7 linked regions of the Homo sapiens genome follow. The protein of the gene in region 1 purifies or fractionates together with the protein of each later gene. This does not show direct contact. Each region holds a gene or a part of one and is shown in the gene's direction. Other genes may lie near its edges.

Region 1 (3,500 bases):
ATAAACATGAATGAGCTTAGAATGTATAATTATAGTCTTAACCCTGATTGCTCCCAATTATTAGGGCTTTCAATTTATCATTTGAGTTATTACTCTCTGAGTAATATCTTTTAAAAAATTGATCTATATATTTTTTGTTTCAAACAGTGGACCAGCATCTATACTTTCAAGATACTTATGTTTTCTACCAGTTTTCCTCTGATGAATGTAGCTACTTGTACTGTGAATTTGAAAGAGAAGAAGAATGGCAAAATGGTGTCAAGCTTTTACTGCAACTTGTGCCTCTCATTCCTGCCAGAGGTGGCATCTGTGAACTGTAAGTAGATGCTCTCTTGTGCCATTGTATTCTTACACTTAGACAACATTTACCATGTCTAGGGACTATATTCTGCTCTTTAAGATCACTGTCTCACTTAAGAGGGAGTTACTATCCCCATTTTTCAGATGCACATTTAGAAAGATAAAATAAATTGCAGAAAATTAAATCCAGCTAATAAATAACTGGTATTTAAATCCCAGAAGCCTATGCCTAACCATCTGTACCATGTGGTTTCTAAATTATCATTGTTATAGGAGTAGATGATCTAAATTAAGAAAAAACATATGATTGGGCTTAAGTTGGAATAAAATAGTAACTCCCATCCTATTCGCTATCCAAATCGTGACTTTCCTAAGAGCTCAACAGAATGTTTCTGAAAATAGTCTAGAAGCAACATTTGGCAAATTAAAACACGTGAATCATCACATGAAGATACTGAATCACTATATGATTAAAATGAATTAAAATTAATTAGGGAAGGCTTGGGAACAGGACTTGAGTCATGATGTGGTGATTCTGACATGACTTTGTTTATCCATGGTGATAGCTTATTTTAGAATTATGAGTTATGGATTAAAATTTCAGTTAAAAACTGTTACATATGCAGAACACTTCAGTGTCCAGAATGCTTTCCCATATTGTTGACTCTTTCACTTCTATGATATTAGCGGGGGCAAGCAGTATGGTCTTTATGTCATAGATAAGAAAGTAGGTTCAGAGAGAAATACCTGTATAACCATAACAAGGGTAACTCTTATTAGTTAAAAAAATGACAGTTGACTGTTGAGAAGGAGGTGGAGCAAGATTAGGGAATTGAAGTCTCCACCAATTGTCTCCCAGGCAGTGACCCTAATTTAACAACTATCTACACAGAAAAAAAGACCTTCATAAGAACCAAAAATCAGGTGAGCACTCATAATACCCGGTTATAGTTCCATATTGCTGAAAGGAGCACTGAAGAAATAGAAAAAACAGTACTGAATCACTGATACCACCTCACCTCCACCATTTACACCAGCGTGTACAATAGACACAAATAAAATTAAATACCTAGGAACTAACCAGAGAAGTGAAAGATCTCTGTAATGAAAACTGTAAACACTGATGAAAGAAATCCAAGAGGACACCACAAATGGAAAAAATATTTCATGTTCATGGATTAGAATAATCAATGTTGTTAAAATATCCATATTACCCAAAGCAATCTACAGATTCAATGCAATCCCAACCAAAATACCAATGACATTCTTCCCAGAAATAGAAAAAACAATCCTAAAATTTATATGAAACCACAAAAGATCCGGAATAGCCAAGGCTACCCTAAGCAAAAACAGCAAAACTGGAGGAATCACATTACCTGACTTCAAATTATGCTACAGAGCTATAGTAACCCAAACAGCATGGTAATTGCATGAAAACAGACACATAGACCAATGGAACAGAATGGAGAACCCAGAAACAAACCCACACACCTACAGTGAACTCGTTTTCAACAAGGTGCCAAGACATGCACTGAGGAAGACACAGTCTCTTTAATAAATGGTGCTGGGAGAACTGGCTATCCACATGCAGAAGAATGAAACTAGACCCCTATCTCTCACCATATAAAAAATCTAATCAAAATGATTTAAAGACTTTTAGAGCTCAAACTATGAAACTACAAGATTGGGGAAAATTTTCAGGAAATTGATCTGGGTAAAAATTTCTTGAGCAATACTCCACAAGCACAGGCAACTAATGCAAAAATGGACAAATGGGATCACATTAAGTTGAAGATCTTCCTGCACAGCAAGGATACAATGAACAAATTGAAGAGACAACCCACAGAATGGGAGAAAATATTTGTAAGCTACCCATCTGGCAAGGGATTAATAACCAGAATATATAAGGAACTCAACTCTATAGGAAAAAATCTAATGATTCAATTTAAAAATGGGCAAAAGATCTGAATAGACAGTTTCTCAAAAAAAGACATACAAATGACAAACAGGTTTATGAAAAGGTGTTCAGCACCACTGATCATCAGAGAAATGCAAATCAAAACTACAGTGAGATATCATTTCACCCCAGTTAAAATGGCTTATATTCAAAAGACAATGGCTTATGTTCAAAAGACAGCAATTACAAATGCTGAGGAGGATGCAGAGAAAAGGGAACCCTTGTACACTGTTGGTGGGAATGTAAATTAGTACAACCATTATGGAGAACAGTTTGAAGTTTCTCAAAAAAGTAAAAATTGAGCAACCATAGTATCCAGTAATCCCACTGCTGAGTGTATACACAAAAGAAAGATTATATATCAAAAGGATACCTGCTTTCCTATGTTTTTTGCATCACTGTCCACAACAGCTGAGATTTGGAAGCAACCTCTGTGTCTATCAACAGATGAATGGATAAAGAAAACGTGGTACATATACACAATGGAATACTATTCAGCCATAAAAAAGAATGAGAGATAGTCATTTGCAACAACATGGATGGAACTGGAGGGCATTATGTTGAATGACATACGCCAGGCACAGAAAGACAAACATTGCATGTTCTTATCTGTGGGGTCTAAAAATGAAAGCAACTGAACTCATGAACACAGTAGAAGGATGGTTACCAGAGGCTAGGAAGGGTAATTGGGGACTAGTGGGGAGGTGTGGATGGTTAATGGGTACCAAAAAAACGTTAGAAAGAATGAATAAGGCCCACTCTTTGATAGCACAACAGGGTAACTATACCAATAATAACCTAATTGTGCATTTTAAAATAGCTTAAAGAGTGCAATTGGATTTTTTGTAACTCAAAGGATAAATGCTTGAGAGGATAGGTACCCCATTCTCTATGATGTGCTTATTTCACACTGCATGCCTGTATCGAAACATCTCATGTACCCCGTAAATATATATACCTACTCTGTACCCAGAAAGATAAAAAAAGAGAAAAAATAAATAAAATCTCCTGTTAAATGACAATACTGAATAGTTAATATGGACTGTTTTTAGGAGAATAAGCTTCAGAATATTGATGAGACTGTGCTAATAGAAAGGTTGATTGTGGAGAATGAATTTTAGGTCAGGCACTGTGCTGAATGCTTTATATTCATTATTTTACTTTCAGAAGAATGTTATAAGACAGGTACTATTATTATCTCTATTAAATAAGAGGGGAAATTAGGTACAGAGATCGGGTAACC
Region 2 (3,500 bases), about 110 Mb from region 1:
CAGCAGGGCTGGTGCCAGGCTGCGTCAGCCAGGGCAGAAAGGCTTCATTGTTGGTGGTGGAGAGGGCTGTCCTGCTCCTACGTGGTGAGGGGCCTCGAAGCTGATGGGGTCAGCAGGAACCTGGCTGGTCAAGGCCTAGAGCTGGTGGGAAGGGGTGTAAAGCCACAGCCTCTGAGGGTGTTGGGTGAACAAATGCCCTGCATCCTGGCCGGCTGGCTGCCCCTCACCATCGTCTCCCTCCATCACCTCTCCAGGTCTCTGCCCCGACTGGGAGGCCTGGGACCCCAACCAGCCCGTGGAGAACGCCCGGGAGGCCATGCAGCAGGCCGACGACTGGCTTGGGGTGCCCCAGGTACATGCGCAGATGGGGCAGGGGGGAAAGGGGGCAGGGGCAGAGGTTGGGTCTGTAAGTTTACCTGGCCAGGGTGCAGGGGGAGACTGGGGCTGCTGGGAAAAGAGGGCGCCATGTGACATCACTCCTTTCCATCGCAGGTCATTGCCCCTGAGGAGATTGTGGACCCCAACGTGGATGAGCATTCTGTTATGACCTACCTGTCCCAGTTCCCCAAGGCCAAGCTCAAACCTGGTGCCCCTGTTCGATCCAAGCAGCTGAACCCCAAGAAAGCCATCGCCTATGGGCCTGGTATGTGTGAGCCCCTGGCGGCCCTCCTGGGCAGCTGGGCACATGTAGGCTCTCCCTGAGTAACCTGGGCTCTGCTCCTGCCCCGTAGGCATCGAGCCACAGGGCAACACCGTGCTGCAGCCTGCCCACTTCACCGTGCAGACGGTGGACGCGGGCGTGGGCGAGGTGCTGGTCTACATCGAGGACCCTGAAGGCCACACCGAGGAGGTATGCAGAGGCCGCTGGGGACAGAGGGATTCACTTGGGATTGGAACCAGAGAGCGTGGGGCCAACAACAGGAATGGCCCGGAGGTGACTGCCAGAGCCACACACTGTGCTGTGCAGTCTGGGGAAGGTGTCACCATGGGGGCTGAGTGGGGCTGGGGTGCATAAGGCACTGTGGGGTCAGGAGGGGCTATGGTCATTGGAGAGGCTTCCAATCTTTTTCCTTCCTAATAGGCTAAGGTGGTTCCCAACAATGACAAGGATCGCACCTATGCTGTCTCCTATGTGCCCAAGGTCGCTGGGTTACACAAGGTATCTCCCTCTAGGCCCCCCTGCCTGCGCTGCTCTTCACATCCTTGGTTCCGGCTGCATGGACCCCTCTCTCAGCCTGTACCTCGCGCCTGCCCAGAGCCCCAGCTGCCCGCCTCTCACCCTCCTTGGCCTGGCTGTGCCCCTCTGCCCCCTCTCAGGACTGCTCTCCCCTAGAAGCTAACCTTTGACCTCTGACCCCTAGGTGACCGTGCTCTTTGCTGGCCAGAACATTGAACGCAGTCCCTTTGAGGTGAACGTGGGCATGGCCCTGGGAGATGCCAACAAGGTGTCAGCCCGTGGCCCTGGCCTGGAACCTGTGGGCAATGTGGCCAACAAACCCACCTACTTTGACATCTACACTGCGGGTAGGACGGGCCCCAGGGGGTGCAGGTGGAAAGCCCCTGACCATGTGGGGCTGTGTGGGGGTGGGGGGAGGCTGGGACAGGGATGCCAGCCAGAGGGTGGGCAGCCTCAGGGTGAGGGCACCGGGGCAGCTGTGTGTGTCCAGAGTGGTGCTGACAGCCTCTGTTTTCGGCAGGGGCCGGCACTGGCGATGTTGCTGTGGTGATCGTGGACCCACAGGGCCGGCGGGACACAGTGGAGGTGGCCCTGGAGGACAAGGGTGACAGCACGTTCCGCTGCACATACAGACCTGCCATGGAGGGGCCACATACCGTGCATGTGGCCTTTGCGGGTGCCCCCATCACCCGCAGTCCCTTCCCTGTCCATGTGTCGGAAGGTAAGGGCCCTTCACTGCTCCCCACGGTAGCCCTTACCAAAGCCAGAGGCTTGCAAGGGGCAGGAGGAAGAGCTGGGGCGGGGGTCTGCAGAGACCCCCTCCCTGAGTCCTCCATCCCACCCCCAAGGTGGCTGGAGTTCCTAAGAGCACAGCTGGGAGGCCACAGTGAAGGGTCCCAGAACATGTGCCACCCTGGGAGGGCTGAGCGGAAGTGACGGGGCTGTATGGGTGGGGGCATATCTAGGGAGTACTGCCTGCATGCCAAGCCCTCAGGTGGTGACTGCCCCACTTGTTCTCTCCCTGCACTCAGTGCCCATCGTCCACCAGGCCGAGAGTGATGCCACATTAATGCTCTCCAGTGGAGGCGGGGCCAGGCATGGCCGCAGCTGACTGGCCTCACCTGTGCTGTGTGGCATGGCCCGGGCCGTGTGGAATCGCCCCCCCTTCCTTGGCATTCTGTGGCAGGCCCCAGGTTCCATGCCGTTGTCTGTGTTCTGTGGCAGGTCTAGTGTCTTTGCCACTTGCCTGGTGATTTCTATGATGAAATCTGGGCTCTGAGCCATTGCCTGTGTTCCGTGGTACCCCTTGGGCAGTGCCATCGCCTATGGTCATGGTAGTCCTGGAATATGTGTCGTGTCCTGTTTCGTAGCACCTGTGGGTCCCATGCCATTTTTCTGGATTCTGTGGCAGGCTGAGATTCCCATTCCTTTGCCTGTGTTCCATAGCAAGGCCTGGGCTCATTGCCACTGGCCACGGTCTGTGGTAGGCTGATGTCCACACGTTGCCTGTGTTGTATGGCAGGCTTCGAGTTCTATGAAGTAGCCCTTGTTCTGTGGCATTGCTGGATGTTTTGTGGCATGACTTAGATCCTAAGGTTGCTTTGGTGCCCTGAGAGGCCCAGAGGGCTCTAGATGGATGGCCTTGGGCTGGGTAAAGGGGCCTTCCCTGTCTCTCTGAGCCCACTCTCAGCCCAGGCTCTGCCATGCATTTCCCCAGTGGCACTGGCTCGGAAACTTTCTTGTAACCTGCCTGATCTGGGGCCTGTAGCCAGCTCCAGCCCGGCAGCCCCGGTTGTGCTGGGGACACAAAGGGCTCCAGAGCAGGGCCGTGGGCCACTGCCTGTGCCTGGGAGGGGTTAGAAGGACTGTGCACAGGGAGGTGGGGGCTAGTGGTCCAAGGCCCCTCAGCACCCCCAACCTCCTTTCTCTTCCTCCCCTAGCCTGTAACCCCAACGCCTGCCGCGCCTCTGGGCGAGGCCTGCAGCCCAAGGGTGTTCGCGTGAAAGAGGTGGCTGACTTCAAGGTGTTTACCAAGGGTGCCGGCAGCGGGGAGCTCAAGGTCACGGTCAAGGGGCCAAGTGAGTGCCAGAGCCCAGGGTCGTGAGGGTGGGGCTGGGGGATCATAAGGGAAGTATGGCCAGTGGTTCTGACTCCCAGAGGGCAGTGACAGCCAGCACCACAGCTCCACAGTGACCAGAGGCACCCCAGAATCTCAGGCTCATTGTCTCCTCTCTGCCTCAGTTTCTTGGTCTACAAGCCAGGAATGATTCTCTCCACCCTAAGTGCTATACGGGGTGTTATGCACAGGGATGACAAGTGTTCC
Region 3 (3,500 bases), on another chromosome or scaffold:
GCCCAGCATCTGCAAGTGAAAATTCTCCTTCTAACATGATTTCTGGGATTTTGCAGCTTTCTACTTAAAAACAAGGCACAATAGCAAGTCACCCCATCTTCCCCATATGTGAAATGGAGATGATGCCAGTGTCCTAGGGCCATCGTACAAATCAAGCTAAGATCATGTACAGAGAAACAGGTAGCGCTTGAAAAGCACTCATGGTTTCTCTCTGATGAGTCAGTGCCTACCTGGCACAGAACAGGTAGTCAATAACTGTTCGTGGAAGAACAGTTTAAAACAAACAAAAACATAGTTCAAGTAGAAAAACCTTTGTTATAATTTGAATAAAGATCTTCTCTGTTAAGGCCTCAAACTTCTGATGTGATTATTGAAGTGCTTTTTACATGCATGTGCTCAGGCCATCACTGTTTCTGAGTATGGGTCAGAGGCCCTTGGGCCTCTTCACGGTGGGAAGAATTTACAACCTCCCTTTGTTCTCTGTAGTGACTAGATTTAAAGCGAAGCATATGACACGTTTAACTGCCATTTCCCTCACACATACCCCTGTTATTTTTACCTGCATTAGAAATGGATTGGCTCCTTCCAGCACCCCTATTATTTGTACCTGTATTAGTAATGAGTTAGCTGTACTTGAGAGGCAGTCTTTACTGACTTTCCCCACATGCACTAGTCCCAGGCTGTTTAACAAAGAAGCGGGTGGAAGGCATTACCCAATTCGATCGTTTTCCAGGCTTGTGTGATTTTTTTTTTGAGGACTCAGATCAATAATTTTTCTGGTCAGACTTTCCTGGACTGTGCATATTAGCACTTTGACAGTTGAATAAGCATTTAATTTGCATGTCCACCTAGAAAGTTGCAAGGGGGGTGTTTTTGAAGTAGAATGTGACATGTCAGGCCTATGGTCTACAGCCTGAAGTGTCTGAGAGGGAAGAAAGAGAACCAAAGCTTCTGTTTCTGAAATATAATGTGACAAATACCACTTTAATTAAATTCCATAAATTCTCATCCCACTTTTAAAGGTAGGTGGTATTACCCCTGTTGTTCAAATGAAAGTGGTCAGAAATATTGAATCTTGTCACTTCCCTTTGGGTGCAAAATGAAAGGCCCTACATCCTTAGAAGTCACATCAGGATACATCATGTAAGCCTGGTAAACAAATCCCAAGAGACATACTTGAAATATGGAAAGGAAACAGGTACTTGAAAGAGTAGGGCACCTTACTAGCTTGAGATGTATTATTCTATGCTCTCAAAATAGATAATGGTTTGGAAGCACGGCTTGGCTTACTGCTATATTTATGTTCAGAGGTTGCTTGTTTTCCACGTACTTTTAAAAACTATTCTGGAAGGGAAGGGGTTAGTATATATATGTGGGATGTGGAAATATAATAGCCAATTTAAATGAACTTAAAGCTGTAACAGTGATACTATCAGTCTACTGTGGTGGGGTTGCTAATGCATTTAACTGAGTGCTTTTTAACAGCCCAGCTGGAGAAACAGGAAGTGGGACAGGATCAGTGGAAACGCTGCTTGGGTATTTGAAATTCAAGCAGTGAGACCTGAGAGACTGGAGTTCCTCGCCAATTCCAGAACCTCAGTGCAGGGCATTACTCTTTTAGATACAAAGATTGGGTGTAGAAACTCCACATCTGTCAGCCACGTAACACAGCCCATCAGATAATCATGTTAAGGCTAACAGCCAGTTCGAAACATTCTGTAGAACTATATCTGTTCAAGGGCTACCAGGTCCTACCTATCTGTCTCACCTCCTGCTTTCTCTTGCTGGGCGTTTGTGTGCTGTTTGGAGATTCTAAATATTTTACACTGATGTTTCTTTATCTTTAACACATTGCTTCTCTCTTTGTGCTTCAGGGAAGATGGTGAAAAAAGTCTGTCCTTGCAACCAGCTCTGTAGTAATTATCTTTTCTGTTATTTTTGGTCCTTGATTGCAAAGCCTGTTAACCATGAGTTCTTTCAACTCTGCAGTCTCATAGCTCCCTGATTCCTAACTTCCATCTATCTCTGTATCCTATTCTAATAAATATTTAACATGCTTAATTGAGAAATCATCTCCTAGTCGGTGCCCTCAGTGATAACCCCATGTGAGCCTAGCTTGTGACAGACATGGATTGGTAATGGCCATGGGTATATATAGGGAGGTCAGGGATGCCTAGTTCCTATGGGAGAGCGATCCTTTGGTCAGCAAATATGTGCCGGGCAGTGTTATTACCCCAACTGGAAACTCAGCAGTGACGAAAGCATACAAAAGTCCATGCCCTCCCACGTTCACACTGAAGTGGGAGATGTGTGCTAGATTGACGAGGAGAAAAACACCACTTTCTAGAGTTTGTCTTCTTAGACTGTGGCTTCTCATACTTTAATGAGAAGGCCACTTACAGTGTTGTAGGTAGGGTCAACAGGGAAATTCTGTACTTGGGATGTTGGGCTGTAAGTTATGGTTCATAATAGGTTATTGTTAGTAGGATCTGGTGATGTGGGAATAGGGGAAATGTATTATAATGGCAGGAGGAAATTTAAAAATGAATCTTGGGGGTAAGTCTATACTACTTATTAGGGCTTTTCAGAAGAACTAAAAAAGGTTAAGAAGTTAGCATATTCTCTCAAAGGCCTTTCTACATCTTTTATAGTCAAGTCTCCTTTTCTTAGGAGTTAATTTCTGGTCAGAAAATGATAGGTTTGTTTCATTCTTTAATGGGAGGCCTGTATACAGAAGCCAGAACGTGAAGGTTTAGCTGTATGGTTGACTCTTCCTCATGGTTTCTCTTTCCTCATAGAGAATCCTGTATTAGGTAATGTAGGGTAAAATGAAAAGTGAAATTTCGTTCTAAAGGGGCCTCGCAGCATCAGGGGCGACAGACTAGAGAGGTGTGTCTCCCAGCATGAGCTCTGTGGATAAGCAATGGTCACGCCTCCTGAGCTTCTTGTATTTAGCTTTTGACAGCTCTGCTCCCCTGTGATTATTTCTGTTTTTTGTTTTGATTGTCTCTCACATCAAGCTCACCAAGCAATAATTGTTCAAACAGGATGACAATCCCCATGCATGTGATATGCTTGCTTTCTAGATTGAGTCACTCACTGTCATGACTGCCCATCCTCATTGCCTGTGCTTCCCACTTCACCACTCTCTCACATTGGCTGTTCATGGAAGGCTGTTTTCTGTGCTCTCATGCTTCTCCCCTCGCGTTTCCTGTACTGTAGGGAGCTTACTCTTCCCTTCACACTGTATGTGCAATAGCAATCCCCTTGTGGCTCCAGCAGACACCAAGAAATGAGCTGACACTCACACTGCAGTAGTTCCGTGTCTTGCCATAGCGGTAAGAAGCATGTGACCTTCCTCACTGCAGCTTCACCTCAGAATTAGCTGTTACTGCAGCACAGACCTGCTTGTGTGTGCCATTCCCCAGGTGGTAGGATATAAGCTTGACTTGAGACCAGCGATGGTCAGTAACAGGCTTTGAAGTGGCAGGATTGCGTTA
Region 4 (3,500 bases), on another chromosome or scaffold:
TAAGAGTTGGGCCCAAAACACAGGGCTGAGTCCAAACATGTTCTTTTAACCTCTGTGCTACACAGCATTTGACTACTGAGCTGGGCTGAAATGTGTGTGCTTCACCTGTTCTGCAGGAGCCAGGGAGCAAGGGTGGTAGGCCTGGTTCCTCCATGCCCACTCACACCCACACACTAAGGCAGCTGGATCTCTCTTAGGCTCATTCTTTGAAAGATACGTCTGAGGCATCATGCTGAGTGCTGTAGGGTGGGTGGAGGGGTACAAAAAAGAATAAGCAGCTTATGGTCTAATAGATTGGAGATGTATGAAGATGGGTCAGCTTTGTTCAAGGGGTTCATGTCTGGGGTGTGTGCAGACACCTCAATGTTGTGTCCTGCCTGCACCCTGCCCCCGGCCTATTTCTCTCCACCCCATGCTCTCAGCCACTGATAAGGGTCAGTGTGGCCAGCTGGGTTAGTATACAGCAGGAGCGTGCTCAGGCCAAAGAAGGAACTCCTTCCCCCTACTGCATGGAGCTGCTCTACACCACACCTTTCTTCCTCCCCACCTCCAAGAAGCCTTCCCCCTACTCCAGCCCACACAGAGCTCTCTTCTCCCTGAAATCCTTTTGCCCCCATAGTCACAATAACTCGATTTAACACTTCTCACTGAAGGGGCTTGGCTGCTATTGAATTGCACAATCTCAGAGCTGGAAGTGATTTCCAAGATCCTCCAGTCCTCATTAAAGGCTTGAATTTCTTTTGCAACATGCCTTACAGGAGGTCACCAAGCCCCTGCTTGAATGTTCTCAGGGGTTGGGGAGCTTTCGGCTTCACTAGGTGGCCAGTTTTAGTGCAATTGCTCCATGATAAAATTCTTCCTTGTTTGGAGCTTCAGGTGGCTTGCAACTTCAGCCCATTGCTCTCGTGCCTCTGGTCCATATGGACAAGTTGCATCCAAGGCATCCAAGTTGCATCTTCATTTGTTTAAGATCCATCTTGCTTCTCCATCCCTCATGACTCCTCCCTTCCATTGTTAACTATCCCAGTTCCTGCAGCTGTTGGTCTTGGGACATGCCTTTGAATCCACTCCCAGTATGGGTTGCATTTCCCTCTAAGAAACACTAGGATTTGTCATGGCCCCTCCCAAGCCTGATGCTCATGACTGAACCAGATCCTCCAGGATAGCCCTGTCAGTGCCAAGCAGTCTGCACAGGTCTTTTAACAAGATGGAAGGTCACATGAGCTGCACATGGATGATTTGTGTTGAGCTTGCAGTCAGACCTAAATCCCCAAGTCTTTTTCACATTTTCCCTATCCTGTCCCTGTGCAGTTGCTTTTTTTGGCTCGAAGCATAGGAAGAGATGCTGGGCAGGCCAGGGCTCTGAGCCAGCTGCCAGGTTCCCAAAGGAGACTTCAGACTAGTGCTCACTCTTTGTAACAGTTCAGGGTTTTACCCCCATCCCTGTCTTAGTGCTTGTCAACTGAGGTGCTCTTGGCATTTTGAGTGGGACAGTTCTGTACCTGTTAGCATTCCTGGGCCTTACTGATTAAATGCTGAGTAGCACCCTCTTGTCTGTGCGCTATTTGTGACATCCAAAAATTGCCTCCCAGTCTTTCCAGGTGGCTGTGAGGGGAGAGTGGTGACTCCCTGCACTCCAGCATGAAAGCCTCCGGCACACCTTTGACCACTTTAGCCAGAAACCAGTGAGCAGCTGTTCCCTGATGCTTTTTCTTTAAGCCTCCTCACCCTGGTTCTGACCTGAGCAAAGGCCCTCCCAGGCCCAACCTCTGCACCAGCCTGATGAGGTGAAAGATGGAGCATTCTCACGCTGAATTAGTGTGTGTTTGGGGTGACTTCCTAACCAGATTCTAAACTCTTTGGAGGGGCTGAATCTCCTTCTGCGTAGATCCCTCCACCCACCCCAGCTCCGCACAAGGTAGATTCTAATTGATTGATTCAACTGGACAGAGGATATTTGCAACAAAGATCTAAGGGAGCCAGATAAGACCTCTCCCTTCTCCTGGCATCTGCTAACTTTACTTTCATCTTTTCCTTTCAGGAGCCCCCCAAGGTTGCCAAATGCACAGCCAAGCCTAGCAGCTCGGGCAAGGATGGTGGAGGCGAGAACACTGAGGAGGTAATGAATGTAGGCGTAGCCTTAGATGTGGTGCAGGTGCCACCCGCAACTCCATGATGGCTAGTTGGGTAGGGGATCCCAGGGGGTGAGGCAGAAGGGAAGGCTTCCATATCCTGGGAGGGACCTGGACAGCCCATCCAGACTGCCCTCAGGCAGGATTTACCTTTGGTTGGTATAGACCAAATACATTCTCTAGTTCTTCAGACTCCCCAGAGATTCCTATGAAAGTTGTTTCTCTGCTTACCAACTTGGAATGTTGAGAATTCCTTTTTCTTAGGGCAAAAAGCGGGAGGTTCTGGGATCCTGGGCAAAAGGGGAAAAGTCCACAGACACTTGATGGGGTAACAAGTGACTTCAGCATGGCTCGGGTGGGGCAGGGGATTGGGAGGGGCTGGTGTCCCTGAGTTGGGCCCAGCTGGGCCCACTGCCCTTGGTCCTGATTGAATGGCAGCATGACTAAAAGACAGTCCTGAGCAGAGTTCAGCGCAGCTTAGCAATCTCGGGTTATAAAGCAATAAACAGCAAGCCGAGAGAACACCAGAAGAGGGAGAGACTTAAGGAAGTACACAGTATGTCCATGAAAGTTTGGGAGTGTGCACAGTGGGATGCTCTGGATGGTGAAAGATCCTGTGAACATACACAGCGAGCATCCACCACATCCTACCTGGAAACTGGTGTTTGGTGCTTTCTCTGCTTTCTCCCTCTGCTCTAAACTGTTCAGAGGGATGAAAGAGAACTGGAAACACAGCTCTCTAGTTATGGACAGGTCTTATGGTTTTTTGGGAGAAGAGATTGATGAGCAAATGTTTGGGGTTAACTATGCGTTTAGATGTTTCTCAGTACTTCTGGTGATAGGTCACCTCTAAAGAGATACAAGCACTTTTCACACCTCATTTTAGGCCTCATTTAAGTAATGAGAAGCTGAGTAGGTTTTCCCCATTTTATAGGCATGGAAGTTGAGGACCACAGAAGAGGAATTATTCTTTCCTCTGCACTTATGCAGTATTCTACTTTTTTTTTTTTTTTTTTTTTTTTTTTGAGATGGAGTCTCTCTCTTGTTGCCCAGGCTGGAGTGCAATGGTACGATCTCGGCTCACTGCAACCTCCACCTCCCGGGTTCAAGCAATTCTCCTGCCTCAGCCTCCTGAGTAGCTGGGATTACAGGCGCATGCCACCATGCTTGGCTAATTTTTTTGTATTTTTAGTAGAGACGGTGTTTCACCATGTTGGCCAGGCTGGACTTGAACTCCTGACCTCAGGTGATCCACCCGCCTCAGCCTCCCAAAGTGCTGGGATTACAGGCGTGAGCCACTGCACCCGGCCCTTATGCGGTATTCTAAATATCTCCTTAATAATCCTTATCACTCAGCTCTGTGACGAT
Region 5 (3,500 bases), on another chromosome or scaffold:
AGTGTCTAAGTGTTCACTTTTCTCTGCAACCTTGCCAGCATCTGTTATTTTTTGACTATTTGTTTATTTATTTATTTATTTATTTATTTTCTGGAGATGGAGTCTTGCTCTGTCGCCCAGGCTGCAGTGCAGTGGCGTGATCTCGGTTCACTACAACCTCTGCCTCCTGAGTTCAAGCGATTCTCGTGCTTCAGGCTCCCAAGTAGCTGGGACTACCGGCATGCACTACAACACCTGGTTAATTTTTGTATTTTTTAGTAGAGACAGGGTTTCACCATATTGGTCAGGCTGGTCTTGAACTCCCGACCTCAAGTGGTGCACCCTCCTTGGCCTCTCAAAGTGCTGGGATTACAGGGGTGAGCCACTATGCCCTTCCATTTTTTTACTTTTTAGTAATAGCCATTCTGACTGGTGTGGAATGGTATCTCATTGTGGTTTTGACTTGCTTGCATTTCTCTAATGATCGGTGATATTGAGCATTTTTTCATATCTTTGTTGGCCGCATGTATGTCTTGTTTTAGAAAGTGTCAGTTCATGTCCTTTGCCCACCTTTTCATGGGGTTGTTTGTTTCTTGTAAATTTGTTTAAGTTCCTCATAGATGCTGGATATTAGACCTTTGGCAGATGCATATGGTTTGCAAATATTTTCTCCCATTCTGTAGGTTGTCTGTTTACCGTTGATAGTTTCTTTTGCTGTGCAGAATCTCTTCAGTTTAATTAGATCCCACTTGACAGTGTTTGCTTTTGTTGGAATTGCTTTTGGTGTCTTTGTCATGAAACCTTTGTCCATTCTTATGTCCAGGGTGGCATTGCCTAGGTTGTCTTTCAAGGTTTTTATACTCCGGGGTTTTGCATTTAGGTCTTTAATCCATTTTGAGTTGATTTTTGTATATGGTATAAGGAAGGGATCTATCTTCAGTCTTTTGCATGTGGCTAGCCAGTTATCCCAGCACCATTTATTGAGTAGGGAAACTTTTCCCCATTGCTTGGTTTTGTCAGCTTTGTCAAAGATCGGGTGGTCGTAGGTGTATGGACTTATTTCTGGGTTGTCATAGTTGAAATCATAGTAAATATATATAGTCTTGTCTCTGACTTTTTTCACTTTTATAATAACAAGCATGCAAACATCATTCTAATGGCTTGTTTGTAAATGTACCATAAAATATGTAGCCACTCTTCTATCGTTGAGTGTTCAGGTTTTATTTTTGATTTTTTTATTATTATAAATAACTATGATAAACATCCTTATACATAAAAGTTTTTTCCTTATTTTACATTATTTCCTTAGCATATATTCCCAGAAGTAGAATTACTGGGTCAAGGAATAGGAACATTTTTAAGGCTTTTGATACATATTGCCAAATTGCTTTCCAAAGTTATTATGCCATTTTACACTTCTACCATTAGTGTATTATAGTGCCTATTTCATAACACTATCACTGGGTATACTCATTTTTAAAATATTTACTGATTTCATAGGCAATAAATTGTATCTCATTGTTTTAATTCTCATGTTTTTTATTTATTTTTCAAATGGTTAATAGCCATTTGGTATTTCTTTATGTGTCTGTAAATTATTAGTTCATTTCCTTGGCCCATTTATCTATTGTAATTTAACATTTTTCTTATTGATGTGTTTTGATTTCTATACCTTGGGTATTAACTTGTGTCTGACATATTTACTATAAACATTAGCACACAATTTAAACATATGAATCAAAAAGTTAAAGAGAGTTAATGCCTATTTCTATTAAAAAACAAAGTGCTATTCCTGTTATACCACTCCTTCCCTTAAAAAGATATACACAGTATCAGGAAAAAAAAGAGAAAAAGAAAATCTCTATAGCGCTAAAGTATTATATTTTTGCTAGAATTTTGAAAACTAAGTAGTTTGTAAAGCTAAAATTTTGACAAAAGGGTGGAATGTGGTGAGTCGTGATGGTAGAGGGTACCTCTGAGGGCAGAGCAATAGATCTGGGTAGAATTCAGCTTATTTCTCTTCATGACAGGTTTTTGGGGTTGTTAAAAAATCTCTTGTGTCAGTTGATACTGACCATAGTTAATAAACTATATTAGCATGTTAATATGAAGATGTTATTCTTATTTATTTTCTTATGAATACTTACAAATTTTAATTTTAGTAAGCTTAATATGAAAAAAACAAACATAACCTGTGATTTTTACATTTGGTTTGCAAAGCACTTTTTACACACGTTACTCCCTTTCATTTGATACAGTCCTCACAAAACTCTGTGAATTCATTTTTTTCCTGCATATCTTTTAGATATAGGAAGCAAGACAGTAGATAGCAGAAGTAAAGTATACCTAAATATTTACATGAATTGAATTTTACATTAAACTTTTTGCTTTCACAAAATCCTATGAAGCAGATGGGATTATCCCTAGCACATTCACCCTCCTAACTCCAAAAATATAGAGTATTTTGAAGTCAACTTCATTATTTACTATGTAGTCCAGTTTCTATTATTTTCTTTGAAAACTTTTGATCTTTCTAGGCATGCTGTGGAAAATCTGTTTCATAAGATTATGGACCTAGAGTGGGCCTTAAGAAGTAATGTGGTCTAACTGCCTTCCTGTTATTGAGCAAGAACTAAATTATACCAGTGAAATAAAGAAAATTTCATTGTCTATAATATTCTTAATAATTTTAGGAAGAAGATTTAATACTCTTTCCTAATATCCAATTTCAGTATCTGGAAATCCTCTCCTTTGTTTAATTTAAATCTGACCTGATACATTTGGTTCATTTTTAAATTCTGTCCTGAATAGCTGCTCAGCAATTGCTTTAAAAAAATTTTTATATGCTTCCAGATCATTTTGAAATTATCTTTGACTTCATTCTCTTTTGAGTAACTTAAGTAACAATTGACATTGGTGTTGGTTTATCTCAGGGCTACAATAAGGCAGTGGATTGGTGGGCATTAGGAGTGCTAATCTATGAAATGGCAGCTGGCTATCCCCCATTCTTTGCAGACCAACCAATTCAGATTTATGAAAAGATTGTTTCTGGAAAGGTAAGTAAAACATTTTATTATTCCTCTCTTATTACTGTATATGAATTTTAAGCTTCATGAATTGAAACTATATTGTGTCATAATTATTATTCTACATTGGGAAAAATATAGAAAAATCTACAGTTGCTGCTCTTACTATCATAAGAATTGAATCATTTCAGTCTCTTAAGAAAAAAAGGGCAGTTTTATAAAGAAATTAACAAAACAGTAAAGCAATTTCTGTATTTAGTATTTTTATCACAAAGAACAGGATCATAGCCATAATTCTCGATATTCCTTCAAATAAATAAAAATAGTTTATTATTTCATGTGTCTATCTTCATGGAGAAAAGTTTTAGGGGCTGTTTTATATGCCCTTCCATTTTCAGGAGAGACTTCTTGTTTTAATTATGTCCAATACTATAACATTGGAAGTAAAAGTAAATATAAAATGAATAAGCCTTTTTCAGATGGAAATTTATAGAA
Region 6 (3,500 bases), on another chromosome or scaffold:
TTCCTTTGAACACATTCTTTCCATTGTCGTAAAGGGAACAAGGGAAAGGGATTTTTCTTTTGTTCATTCAAGGGCAGGATTTAGCTAGGGGGAGTGTCATATCTAATTGGCTTCTGCAGCAGGAATCCAAGCACAAGAATCCAAAAGGGGAAGCGGAAGGGGAAGCAGCCCTGGGGGAGGCACCCAGGAGCTGCTGACACAGGGGCCTCTCATCACCAGCAGGTTCTGCGTCTAGCGCTTTGTCCTAGTCTTGGACAAAGGGCTGGGAATAAAAATTCCTTATTCATAACCTATCTTCAAATTCATGACTTCCCTCTTATGTCGTGGGTTAGAATCTGTGAATTTTAGGTACTCATGTGCCACAGTTCATCCCCACATGCTTGCTTGGATTCCTGGAGGCAGAAGTGGAACTGGCACCTATATTCTCTTCTGAACTGTGCTGCCCTGTCATTTTGCCCTGCCAGCACTGTTCTTGTTCTGTGTCTGACCTTGCTATTTTTCTCTCTGCTTTTTTGTCTGTTTTTCTCCTCCTTTCCACCCTATCTCCTCTTAGGTTCAGGCTACAGCTCAAAACAAGCAACACTGCAGTCCTTATCCTCAGTGTGTCTTTGGGATCCTTGGACACTTGCATCCATGGGCCTCTGGACGCCATTTGGGGAAATAGAAGGTGTAGTATTTAGCCACTGTCTGCTGCATAAATGTGCAGAGAAGAAAATAACCATTTTCCCCCCAAGCCCTAGAAATAGTTGAAAAACATACGCAGAGTCAATGGGGAATGAGAATAAATATGTTTGGTTGTTACTGTTCTTGTCAGAAACATCTTCCGCTTTTCCCCTCCCCCTTACTGCATAAGGAATACGATACCAGAATTTCATGTGAACGTTTCCTGGGCGACATTTTACAAATGGCTGAGGAGACACACAGTTTCTATGAGTCTGTTGAGAAGTCGCTGTTTTGAACCTGCCCAGTGCAACCATTTCTGGAAAATTTACCGTACCTTATGTATAATGGATAAGCCCAAAATTGAAAGTCAGATCTGATTTGCTTACGGCCTTCACCAAACAATCCCAGTGGCTCAATGTCTTTCGCAGATCGCAGACCTCGGCCTTGCCTCCTTTAAGATGTGGAGCAAACTGAATAATGAAGAGCACAATGAGCTGAGGGAAGTGGACGGCACCGCTAAGAAGAATGGCGGCACCCTCTACTACATGGCGCCCGAGCACCTGAATGACGTCAACGCAAAGCCCACAGAGAAGTCGGATGTGTACAGCTTTGCTGTAGTACTCTGGGCGATATTTGCAAATAAGGAGCCATATGAAAGTAAGGCATTACTTACTTTCCACTGCCGTCCCCTCAGCATCTACACGCACTGTGCCTGGAACTAATAGGTGCCCAGTAAATTTTTGTTGAATGAATGAGTAATCCCATTTAGGAATCAGTGATCATAGGATGAATAGGAACCTCGATAGTGTGTCATTAGCTGGAGAGGTGCTGTGAAATTCCAGGGTTCTTCCTAGACAGGAAAGTTGATTGTTTCTGCTTGTGAGGACTTAGCCTTTCACACTACAAGGCATACACTTCATACTTTCACTCATTCACTTGCTCCTTCATTCAAGAATTATTTCTTTTCAGTCCCTACTGTGGGCACTTGAGTCGGCATTGGGAATATAAAGATGAGTAAGTCGTGGCTTGTGTAGGATAGAGACACTCTGCAGTTTGTTAAGTGCATAAACTGATGGATGTTGTCCTACATACTCTTCTTGGGTGATCATCAGCTCCCATGGTTTGATGATCATCTCTTTGCAAATGCTTCTTAAATCTGTGTCTCTGGCTCTGGAATGGATATCCACTTGTCTTACAGTCAGATCCATCGCAGGTACCAGAGGAACCTCCAAAGCAGCATCCCCCAAACACATCCTGTCGACACTGTCCTGCAGCTCGCCCCGCTTCACCCCTCTTCATATGCTTGGGAAGTGGCATCGCCATCCTTTTACCAAGTTGTTGCCCAATAAGAAACTTCAGAGTCATCCCAGACTCGCCCTTGCCCCTCTCTCCCACATTCTATCAGATCTCAAAACCTGTGAATTCAAGATATATGTATGACTCAAGATATATCTGCAACCCATCTGCCTTTCTCTGTCTCCACTGGCCTCTGCTCAGTTCAAACCCTCCTCGTTTCTGCAGCAGGCTCCTTCCACCGTCCACCATTCATGTGGCAGCCAAAATGGTCGTCCTAAAAGGCACATGCAACCCTCTCCCTCACATATTGGAAATCCTTCCCAGATGCTCTGTGGTCTTCAGGATGAAGTTCGAATTCCTCAGCGTGGAATAAAAGGCCTTCATGTTCTGGCCTTTGCTTCTCTACTGGCCTCGTCCCTAACCCTCCCTTCTTTGTCAGTGTGCAGTTACACTGAGGAATTTGTGGGATGCGTCATGATCTCTGTAACTTCTAGTCTGTTGATATCCTGCTTCTCTTCCTGGAGTCCTCCTCCTTAAGTCTCCCTTTCCCATTCTTTACCTGCTAATTTTTCTGGACTCAACAAAGCCTTCCTGGACCTTTTTAGTCAGGTTTGTGCTACTGGAACCCCTTGTACATCCTTTTTTTTTTTTTTTTCCCGTGAGACAGAGTCTCATTCTGTCGCCAGGTTGGAGTGCAGTGGTGCAGTCTCGGCTCACTGCAGCCTCCACCTCCCAGGTTCAAGCAATTCTTCTGCCTCAGCCTCCCGAGTAGCTGGGACTACAGGTGCACACCACCATGCCCAGCTAATTTTTATATTTTTAGTAGAGACGGGGTTTCACCATGTTGGCCAGGATGGTCTTGATCTCTTGACGTCATGATCCGCCTGTCTCAACCTCCCAAAGTGCTGGGATTACAGGTGTGATCCACCATGCCCAGCCTCAGCCTTCTTGAATAGCAATGATCACTCTGTGTTTTAAGTCACTCTCATTAAACTGAGCTCCTAAAGACAAGGACTGCCCTGTATTTGCTTTTGCACATGGAGCATGCCATTGGCCTTGCCCACATAATCTTTTTGTTCCATCAGCAGGCAGCTTTGTCGAGAATTTTGTTTTATCTGCAGACATTAAGATATTGTTTGGTCATCTCTGTAGTGGAATATGTCAGCTCCTTGTCATAAGGCCATTCCACTCTATGGAATGAGGCAGCTGTACCAGAGGCTGAGAAAAATGAGCAGTATTGTTCAAGTTCTGTCACCTTCCTGCCTGAGAGAGGAGCAAGACCTGAAAGAAAGTCTTTGCTTTGTAGATGCTATCTGTGAGCAGCAGTTGATAATGTGCATAAAATCTGGGAACAGGCCAGATGTGGATGACATCACTGAGTACTGCCCAAGAGAAATTATCAGTCTCATGAAGCTCTGCTGGGAAGCGAATCCGGAAGCTCGGCCGACATTTCCTGGTAAGAGCATCTTTTCTGACTGTGTAGGATGCATCCTGTGTGGTGATTTTCCTAGTAACATATTGTTAGGAACTTGGTTTGAATC
Region 7 (3,500 bases), on another chromosome or scaffold:
TTTTCCTGCCCTCCTGTTCATATAGCTTACTAACAGCAGCCTTGCCTAGAGTTGAAACACTCTAAAAAGTCTTTTATCTCATCCTGAGGTTTGGGGATTTAAAGTTATGAGGTTACTTTGATACCTACAAACTAATAAGGAAAAGTCTCTCTTGCTTTCTCTGTGGGATTTTATTGTTTCTCTCCCCAGACAAGATGAATAGAGTCATACTGTGGTAATATTTGATTCTGATGTCAAAGATAAATTACAAAACAAGCATCAGGTTCCAGTAGACGTTGACAGGTTATATAACATGGCTGCTGTGCTCACATTGCTATCTGAATGCATGTTCTTCTCCTTCATAGGTTCCATTTAATCAATGTAATGCCTTATTCTAGGAACCAGTGCTCACCTAGATCTTGTAAATACCTCCATTTAGGGGCAAGGTACATGGTGGATTTGTATATACATTGGTTAGCATTACATTTTTGTAGTAGGGAGACCAAAAAGCTCATAGATGTAAGTCCTACAGGAAAGAGAATCTGCTATATAAATAAGTGAATCATAATGATTTTTCCCAAAAATTCATAAAGTAGGTATGCATTTTGTGACCAGATGAAAATTAGTTCTTTTCACTAGTGGAGTTTTTTTTTTAAAAAGCCTCATTTTGAGATAGGACAGATTGTCATGTTCATTAACTCTTCTCAGTAGGATACTCAGTTACTTGTATTATTGATATAACTTATTAGAGTGAGAGAGGGCAAAGAACACCTTCCGATTGTGTTATCTGAATTCTGATTTGAAAGAAATTTTTTATTTAGCATTAATGAACATGTTGGAAATATTCTAGCATATGTAATAAAGTAATTTAATATAAATAATCTACTTGGTACTTCTTGGTTTTATGTTAAATTGACTAATCATTTGGTATGAAATCCTTTTGTGCAGCATGTTTGTGAGTCTGAAGACAGGGAAGAAGTGGTGGTGTGTGAACTGTGTGAATGCAGCGTCGTCAGCTTCAATCAGCACATGAAGAGAAACCATCCAGGCTGTGGGCGCAGTGCAAACCGCCAGGGCTATCGCAGCAATGGTTCCTATGTGGATGGCTGGTTTGGCGGTGAATGTGGGAGTGGAAATCCGTACTACCTGTTATGTGGCACCTGCAGGGAGAAGTACTTAGCCATGAAGACCAAATCTAAGTCAACAAGTTCTGAAAGGTACCTTGAAATTGTGTAGATATCCAGACCTCCTGAAGATACCTCATACCTTAAGTCTTGGGAACTGTAGATTTTTCACGTGAGGAGTTACATTTAACCTTCCCTGAAATCCCGTGATTCTTACACTTTGGGCAGAAGGGATGGAGGGGTTTCAGAAATTCATGTTCCCAGGAATAATGGCATAGCAACATATCCTTCCCTGGAGTTTGACTGTGTTAACCTCTGACTTGTTGGCAAGTAATGGTCAGGACCCTTGCCTTAACCCTCAGGAGGCTTCTACTCAATTCTTTTCATTTGTATTTTCTACCATATTTCTGGCATTTTAATTAAGATCTTTTTCCTGATGAAAAAAACAGACTTTTGATTAAACGAGTTCCATAAAAATATTATCTCTTTACATCCTTAATCCCTAGAGAGTAGGTTTGTTGCCCTTAATTGTCAACTATTAAAATCTTTAAGGCTTTATGGAATAGAATTTGGTTAAAAGAGTTGTTTTAGGTAACCCAGAAATCTCCCCAGTAGTTTGGTAAAATAATCATTGATTTTGTAAGCATGTGTGTACCTACATACCAGCAGTTTTTATTATGTTAGCCTATAACATGAAACATACTTTTTTATTTTGTGCTGCTTTATTAATGACCTCTTAAAATGTTCTAATGACTTAATTTGCATCTTGGGGTACTAACTGTTTTATATAAAAATGCAATGTTCTTCATGTTTGGTGCAGGTACAAGGGACAAGCTCCAGATCTAATTGGCAAGCAAGACAGTGTGTATGAAGGTAGTTTGTTTTGAGAGCTTCTTTATTTTACATGTTTTTTTATATATCCTCTCTGCTTAACATCTGTTACTAAAATTCACCTTCGTGTGTGTGTGTGTTTGTATTTGTGTACATGTTAACTTAAATTTTCCCTTAAAAACTCAAGGGAATTTAATAGCAACAACGCTGGTTTAAAAGTCAAAGGAAAAGAACGTGGTTTCAAAGACCAACTTTACCACAGAATATTAATTTCTATTAGGTGTATTTTTTTTTCAAAGTAGGGAAAGGATGTGGTATATTTTGAATTTCCACCCTAATTGTGGAAAGTAAAAAATAAATAGAGATGAGCATTGATTTTTCTGGAGCACTCATTTTCTTGAAATAACTCATTCCCTAATGATTACAGACAGCTAAGAACTCTTTGTTGGACCCATGACAATATTTTTAATTAGTTTAAACCTCTATTACCAGCTGTAGCATTTGCTATTGCTGTCAACTTATTTAACTACATTGACTCCCTTTCCCTGAGAGTCTCACTTATGCTTCAGGAGTGCAGTTTGGTTAAGTTTTCAGGAGATGGTGCCATAGTTCATTATGTGGTCACTGGACTTTCAGTCCATCTGCATTTTATGTATGTATGTATTTATTTATTTATTTATTGTTTTTATTTCTTTGAGATGGAGTCTCACTCTGTTGTCCAGGCTGTAGTGCTGTGGCGTGATCTCAGCTTACTGCAGCCACGGCCTCCCAGGTTCAAGCAATTCTCCGGTCTCAGCCTCCTGAGTAGCTGGGATTACAGGCACACACCACCATGCCTGGCTAATTTTTGTATTTTTTGGTGGGGATGGGGTTTCATCATGTTGGCCAGGCTGGTCTCAAATTCCTGACCTCATGTGATCCAGTCGCCTCGGCCTCCCAGAGTGTTGGGATTACAGGCGTGAGCCATCGCATCTGGCTGCTCATCTGCATTTTAGATGTATTTTCAGAACAACCATTGCCAGCAGATTTATGTAATATTTAAATTCACATACTATACATTTATTTATTTAAATTCCAGAAGACTGGGACATGTTGGATGTTGATGAAGATGAAAAGCTAACTGGTGAAGAAGAATTTGAATTACTTGCTGGACCGCTTGGTTTAAATGACCGGCGCATTGTACCAGAACCAGTTCAGTTCCCTGACAGCGATCCACTGGGAGCATCAGTAGCAATGGTCACAGCCACCAACAGTATGGAAGAGACTCTGATGCAAATAGGTAAACTGAAATCCTGATTTGCATTGATTTTATAGCATCTACTATAATTTGTTTCTTAGATAGGTAAATAATAATAATAAAGTAAAAGTAAATAAGACTAATGGTTCAACATTATCTCACCCCAACAAGTCTCTTTAGCCAGTTGTTTTAACATTTTGAAGGTATAATGTGGTATTAAGTTTTGGCTGGGCTTGGTGGCTTATGCTCGTAATCCCAGCACTTTGGAAGGCTGAAGAAAGAAGGTCGCTTGAGGCCAGCAGTTCAAGACCAGGCTGGGCAACATGGTG

What was found.
Region 2: the proteins of RAPGEF5 (region 1) and FLNC purify together in Homo sapiens (affinity purification with mass spectrometry; one large-scale study listed by BioGRID and IntAct). This does not show direct contact.
Region 3: the proteins of RAPGEF5 (region 1) and WNK1 purify together in Homo sapiens (affinity purification with mass spectrometry; 2 studies listed by BioGRID and IntAct, with this or other methods). This does not show direct contact.
Region 4: the proteins of RAPGEF5 (region 1) and PPP2R5D purify together in Homo sapiens (affinity purification with mass spectrometry; 2 studies listed by BioGRID and IntAct, with this or other methods). This does not show direct contact.
Region 5: the proteins of RAPGEF5 (region 1) and PRKACB purify together in Homo sapiens (affinity purification with mass spectrometry; 2 studies listed by BioGRID and IntAct, with this or other methods). This does not show direct contact.
Region 6: the proteins of RAPGEF5 (region 1) and RIPK1 purify together in Homo sapiens (affinity purification with mass spectrometry; one large-scale study listed by BioGRID and IntAct). This does not show direct contact.
Region 7: the proteins of RAPGEF5 (region 1) and HERC1 purify together in Homo sapiens (affinity purification with mass spectrometry; 2 studies listed by BioGRID and IntAct, with this or other methods). This does not show direct contact.

The regions. Positions count from the first base shown.
Region 1 is NC_000007.14:22,305,155-22,308,654, reverse strand, and holds part of RAPGEF5 (rap guanine nucleotide exchange factor 5), read left to right. Parts: intron 1-147; coding exon 148-316; intron 317-3,500. UniProt on the Homo sapiens protein: Guanine nucleotide exchange factor (GEF) for RAP1A, RAP2A and MRAS/M-Ras-GTP. Its association with MRAS inhibits Rap1 activation.
Region 2 is NC_000007.14:128,836,906-128,840,405, forward strand, and holds part of FLNC (filamin-C), read left to right. Parts: intron 1-254; coding exon 255-352; intron 353-492; coding exon 493-643; intron 644-731; coding exon 732-850; intron 851-1,081; coding exon 1,082-1,159; intron 1,160-1,361; coding exon 1,362-1,524; intron 1,525-1,697; coding exon 1,698-1,898; intron 1,899-3,117; coding exon 3,118-3,255; intron 3,256-3,500.
Region 3 is NC_000012.12:902,579-906,078, forward strand, and holds part of WNK1 (serine/threonine-protein kinase WNK1), read left to right. Parts: intron 1-3,500. UniProt on the Homo sapiens protein: Serine/threonine-protein kinase component of the WNK1-SPAK/OSR1 kinase cascade, which acts as a key regulator of blood pressure and regulatory volume increase by promoting ion influx.
Region 4 is NC_000006.12:42,987,570-42,991,069, forward strand, and holds part of PPP2R5D (serine/threonine-protein phosphatase 2A 56 kDa regulatory subunit delta isoform), read left to right. Parts: intron 1-2,041; coding exon 2,042-2,119; intron 2,120-3,500. UniProt on the Homo sapiens protein: The B regulatory subunit might modulate substrate selectivity and catalytic activity, and might also direct the localization of the catalytic enzyme to a particular subcellular compartment.
Region 5 is NC_000001.11:84,199,771-84,203,270, forward strand, and holds part of PRKACB (cAMP-dependent protein kinase catalytic subunit beta), read left to right. Parts: intron 1-2,912; coding exon 2,913-3,035; intron 3,036-3,500. UniProt on the Homo sapiens protein: Mediates cAMP-dependent signaling triggered by receptor binding to GPCRs.
Region 6 is NC_000006.12:3,081,994-3,085,493, forward strand, and holds part of RIPK1 (receptor-interacting serine/threonine-protein kinase 1), read left to right. Parts: exon of another isoform or gene 1-667; intron 668-1,091; coding exon 1,092-1,320; intron 1,321-3,265; coding exon 3,266-3,415; intron 3,416-3,500. UniProt on the Homo sapiens protein: Serine-threonine kinase which is a key regulator of TNF-mediated apoptosis, necroptosis and inflammatory pathways.
Region 7 is NC_000015.10:63,659,449-63,662,948, reverse strand, and holds part of HERC1 (probable E3 ubiquitin-protein ligase HERC1), read left to right. Parts: intron 1-927; coding exon 928-1,196; intron 1,197-1,923; coding exon 1,924-1,976; intron 1,977-3,012; coding exon 3,013-3,213; intron 3,214-3,500. UniProt on the Homo sapiens protein: Involved in membrane trafficking via some guanine nucleotide exchange factor (GEF) activity and its ability to bind clathrin. Acts as a GEF for Arf and Rab, by exchanging bound GDP for free GTP.